Linked DNA regions of Homo sapiens: region 1 is linked to region 2. Evidence: fine-mapped expression QTL. A gene starts in region 2. The other region holds a variant in brackets. All regions are shown on one strand. Distances are from middle to middle.

Evidence for each region. PIP is the estimated chance that this variant, and not a neighbour inherited with it, causes the effect. A credible set is the group of variants that fine-mapping cannot tell apart.
Region 1: its variant is the best candidate, but not a certain one, in a credible set for the expression of CFAP126 in sigmoid colon (GTEx, PIP 0.55).

The regions. Positions count from the first base shown.
Region 1 is chr1:161,319,074-161,322,001 of GRCh38, forward strand. The region is part of intron 1 of SDHC (succinate dehydrogenase complex subunit C); the gene reads left to right. Among named protein-coding and RNA genes, the nearest start is that of SDHC, 6.2 kb to the left of the region's middle. The variant A/G (reference allele first, on the strand shown) is at 1,823.
Region 2 is chr1:161,366,198-161,369,125 of GRCh38, forward strand. CFAP126 (cilia and flagella associated protein 126) reads right to left here and starts at 1,679. Exons shown (of 5, transcript NM_001013625.4): 1 at 1,645-1,679; 2 at 242-304; 3 at 1-81. The coding sequence starts at 1,671.

The DNA of each region.
Region 1 (2,928 bases), 47 kb before region 2:
AGCTAGGTTTGGAGGCACATGCCTGTAATCCCAGCTACTCAGAAGGCTGAGGCAGGAGAATCGCTTGAACTCGGGAAGTGGAGGTTGCTGTGAGCTGAGATCGTGCCATTGCACTCCAGCCTGGGCAATAGGAGCGAAACTCTGTCTTAAAATAAATAAATAAATAAATAAATAAATAAAGTACTGTGGTACTATGGATCCAAAATATTTTGATAGTTTGAGCTCAAAGTCTAGCAGGGAGATAAATAGATTAATTATTAAACCACATAAGAAATATTGATAGATATGAACAAGTGTGAGAGCAAGGCAGATATAGCAAGTAAGGCTAAAGAAGTGATCTTGCTATCCAGGAATTGGTTGTTTTTTTTTTTTTGGTTTTGGTTTTTTTTTTGAGACTGAGTCTCGCTCTGTCGCCCAGGGTGGAGTGCAGTGGTGTGATCTTGGCTCACTGCAACCTCTGCCTCCTGGGTTCAAGTGATTCTCCTACCTCAGCCACCCGGGTAGCTGGCATTACAGGGGTGTGCCAGTATGCCTGGCTAATTTTTGTATTTTTACTAGAGGTGGGGTTTCACCATGTCGGCCAGGCTTGTCTCAACCTCCTGACCTCAAGTGACCCACCCACCTTGGCCTCCCATAGTGCTGGGATTACAGGCATGAGCTACCACGCCGGCCCTTAGGAATTGAGTTTTGAAGGATGAGTTTAACAGGCTCTGAGGGAGGCTCTATTCAGAGAACAGCATGAGCAAAGGCATGTGGTCAAAAGATGGTTTGCTGTAGCTGGACATAATGTAATGTTCAGTGTGGCAGAATTACAGTGGATTGAAAGGAATTTGTGGGAGGTTAGGTCCAGAGAGTTGGCCACGTTGTGAAGTGCGTTGTTTGCCCACAGTTTGGATCTTATACTGTAAGCAGCGGGAAATTGTTAAAGACTTTTAGGCAGGAGAATGATGAAACCATGTTATTTTATTTATTTTTCAGTAAATTAGTGTTGGTGTTATTGAATGATATGTAAGAGATTGGTGCGAGGGAGATCAGTTCAGGAGCTCTTGTTACAGTCCTAGTGAGAAACGAAGAGGATATAGACTATAGCAATGGATTGGAATGAATTTTCCTAGCTGTTAATGATAGGATTGGGTGATGCCATCATATGGGGGGGGTGGTGAAAGAAAAGAAATCAAGGATGACTTAGGTTATAGTTTGGTAGTTGGGTGGTAATAATCATTAACCAGAACTTTTGTATACAAATTATTATTCATCATGCCATTCAAAGTTATATATCTATTTTATTGTTGCTGTTACCTAGACATTTATGAAACTTTTTGGTATACCATCAGATCAAGTTTAGAAACTCATTATATTACAGTCATATAATGTATGACTATAATAAGATAAATTATAGTCACATCTTGTTTTGGACTAAAAATGGTATTCAGTTTGATCACATAGACTTGGCTTTGAATAACTTTTTTTTTCCAGAAATCAAATTTATTTTCAGTGGATGAGTATTTTTGTCACCACTGAGGGTTTTAAAAAGAATGTGATGCAAATTCTAAAGACCTCGGGGAGACCAGTGATAATATGTTACATATATATGTGGTGTATTGTAGTTTAGACAATGCTTTCCTGTATGTTTTCTTGTGCAGTCCCCTCAGCAACCAATAAGGTAGGTATTATCAATCCCATTTTATAACTGAAAACGCTGAAGCTCAATGACTCACTCAAGTTATACAACTTATTCTAAGACTTCAGTCTTGATTTTTTTTTTTTTTTTTGAGATGGAGTCCCGCTCTGTCACCAGGCTGGAGTGCAGTGGCCCAATCCC[A/G]GCTCACTGCAACCTCTGCCTCGCGGGTTCAAGCGATTCTCCTGCCTCAGCCTCCCGAGTAGCTGGGATCACAGGCGTGCGCCACTACGCCCAGCTAATTTTTGTACTTTTAATAGAGACGGGGTTTCATCATGTTGGCCAGGATGGTCTTGATCTCCTGACCTTGTGATCTGCCCGCCTCGGCCTCCCAAAGTGCTGGGATTACAGGCGTGAGCCATCGCGCCCGGCCCAGTCTTGATTTTTTACTTCCCAATGTTATTTTTACATTACCATTGCTGCCCCAATCCAGAGAAGAGTTTCAAAAATGATTTCAGCAATGATTACATTTTGGGGAGACATGTTAATGCATTTAGAAGGGGCAACAATAACTAGAAATTGTAAGTTCTGGCTTGTCAATTAAAAATACAGAGTTCCTGTTTTCACATGAAAGGGAAGGATAATTACTTTTGTCATATTTCAAATAAGGTTATGGCATTTGTGCAGCTAGTTTCTGTGAGGGCCTTGTAGAAAGTTTACATTGATATTTGTCTGGGAAACAATAGCGCTAGACAGAGAGGGCACGCCATAGATTCCAACCCACATCTGCAAACTCTTGCTGGGTAGCTGAGTGACTGGGCCTAGCCTGGTGTGAGGAATGCGTGCCCTGCAACTTCAGAGTCACAATTCAATTGATTAAAAGAGATTTGTTCCCACTTCTTTCTGGGAGCCTTGGGTATACAATGTCTGTATTCACCTCTTGCCTTCAAAGCTGGAAAGAGGGAAGAGCTGAAGAAGGAAGTGTTCGTTAGATTTTTTTCCTTTAAATAGTGGGCCCTTCTAGTGTACTAATATGAAGCTTTTGAAAAGTTTGTGCATCTAATATCAATGGTGTGAGGGACATCATGAGCTTTTTTAGAAGATCATTAGATCTGTATGAGATCTTGTGTCCTAGTGCCTTGCAAGTAGTGGATATGCAATAAACTTTTGTAGAATCAATGTGTTTTTAAGTTTTAGTCCCAGAAATTCACTCTATTTACCTTCTTAAATGCTTTTGGAAAGATTTGATACAATGATGTGACTGAAGGATATAATGATGTGACTGAAGGGTATAATGGTCGTGTGTTTTT
Region 2 (2,928 bases):
CTTGGAACGGGGCACAGAAGGCAGTAGATGACCACGATCGTTGGCAATAATTTGAGTGTAGCCTTCATGAGAAGAGATGCTCTGGGGTACAAGTGGGAGAGATAAAGGTTTGTGAGGGGAAAAAGGGAAGTATTTGGGGAGCTTGGTCAGAGAAGGATATGGGAGTTTAGAGAATGCTAAAAGGAGTTAATTGACAGGGAGAGCATGAGGCTATCTTGTAGGTGCACTGAACATGGAATACCTCTTTTGTTGGCTTAGTGGGAGACCAGTTCTGCAGATACTTGGATGAGAAAGCCTTTTCATACTGTGGAGAGAAAGATAAGTAGCCCTATGAGACTTCAAGGCCCCAAACCCAGGAAATGAAGACTAGGCACAATTCTTTAGATTTGAAGACCAAAGGCCTGACCAACCATGTAGGCTTTAAGTCACTATGACAAGGGTGTAATTTGTTTGGTCTAGATGTGTGCTGTCCAGCATGGAGCCGGGAGCCACATGGAGCTGTTGAGCACCTGAAATATGACTAGTTCAAATTGAGGTGCTTTGTAAATATGAAATATGCTGAATTTTTAAGTTTTTTTCTTTTCTTTTTTTTTTTGAGATAGGATCTTGGTCTGCCACCTGGGTTGGAGTCAGTGGCATGATCCTAGCTCACTGCAGCCTTGGACACCTGGGTTCAAGCGATCCTCCTCCCTCAGACTCACAGGTAGCTGGGACTACAGGTGCATGCCACCATGTCCAGCTAATTTTTAAATTTACTTGTAGAGACGAGGTCTCACCATATTGCCCAGGGTGGTCTCAAACCCCTGGCCTCAAGCGATCCTTGTGCCTCAGCCTCCCAAAGTGTTGGGATTACAGACGTGAGCTACAACACCCAGCAGGTTTTGGAGATTTAGTACAAAAAAAGAACGTAAAATGTCTGATTATAATTTTTTAAATACTGATTAAATGTTGAAATAATATTTGGATTTATTGGGTTAAATTCAATATATTTAAATTTTATGTTTTAATTTTTTCATGTAGCTACTAGAAAATTTAAAATTACATTTGTGGGTCGCACTCTTTTTGTTGGGCAGCACTGGTCTAGATCAGGAGTTGGTAAACTATGGCCTATGGGCCATATCCATATTGCTGCCTGTTTGGGGATGGCCTGAGAGTAAGGGTGATTTTTATAGATGAACATTTACAATTGATTCAGTCAAATGGAACACTAACTTTGAATCCCAGTTAAGTGAAATGTTTTCTCAACCCCCAAAATTCCATTATTTTCATTAGTAGTACAAAAAATTGTACTCAGTTATATTTTGAATTTGTCAAAAATGTTATGGAAAAATGTTTTTCTTTAATTATGCAAGTAGCTACAGAATATTTTTGACTTTGCCACTTGGCCTGCAAAGCCTAAAATTTTTACACTCCGCCCTTTTACAGAAAAAAAATTGCCAACTTCTGGTTTACACCCTACAAATTTAACCAAGAGATACCTTTGGATCGCCCCTGGGCTCTCTCTATCCCTGAGGAGGTAAAATATTATCTCACTCCACTCTCAGCTATCTGTTCAAAGATCAGAATCCTATGAGAGGGGACAGTCCAAAGATAGAATCTGAAAAACAAAAGTAAACGTTAAAGAAATGGAGAATGGGAACTTACCTGGTTGGCACTGTAGTTAGTGGCCATGATCTTGTGCTGTTTACACTCGTTGCTTGGCAACTGCAGAAGGCCGACCTCCTGGGACTACCAATGAGCAGAGGCTGCCTTTCTCTTCTGCTTATTATTATTCACTTCCTTGGCTCACACTGCCCCCATTTGTTTTCTCTGGAACTTAGATTCATTTTTATTTTACAGACGGGAAAGACTGAGTAAATGTGAGAAAATTAGCTGAATAGCCACTACTTTTTTTCTGGCATAACCTACCCCTGCTTAAGAACTTCCACGGGCCTTTGATTGGGGTTTTTAACCACTTTAACAAACCATGTAACCCTGAGAGCTATGCTTGTTGGACAACATGGTGTAATGTACCACAGGCTGTAGAGCCAGATACTGGGGTTTGAATCCTTATTCAACATGGGAACATAGGAGCTATATGACATTAAACAACTGTCTTGTCTTCACTAAATTTCTATCAACTCATTTGTATTGTGGGGATAATAGAGCCTGCTTTTACAGGGTAAGTGAGATAAAATGAATAAAGTGTCTAGACAATATCATAGCATAGTAGGTATTCAATCCTGGTGAGATCCTGTTTATAAGGCCCACTACTTTGTCTTATCAGGCAGAATAACAAAGGAACAATATTTAAAAAGCAACTAGCTCAAATCTGTCCCCAGAAGGAAAAACATATCTTGTCCTTGGTCCTTAAAAAATTTCCTCTGTCACTGTCTAGAATCAGCACCTAAGAACACAGGCGTTTAGTGTTGACTGGAATAAAATGGAATCGGGTGCTGGTGCAGGGAGATTGAGCAGGGATGAAGAGAGAAAATCACAGAGTGGAAAGGATCAGGTTTGGAGAGTTCAATGGGGGGCTGCCAGGACATAAGCCTAATATGTGTGGGACAAGGAAACCCCTCTGAAACTCATAAAATGGTATTGTAATACCCATCTATGAGGTGGTTAGGAGAATTAATAAGTAAGTAGAACTGTGCTTTGTGAATTGTAAAGTGAATTTATATATAAGGTGTCAAGATGAAAGGGAAAAACTAAGAAATAAGTTGCCCAAAGATATCATTAGGACCAGGAGACCATTATAAAGTATATCCAGGCCGGGCACGGTGGCTCATGCCTGTAATCCCAGCACTTTGGGTGGCCGAAGCAGACGGATCACAAGGTCAGGAGTTCGAGACCAGCCTGGCCAACATGGAGAAACCCTGTCTCTACTAAAAATACAAAAAATTAGCCAGGCATGGTGGTGCATGCCTCTAATCCCAGCTACTCGGG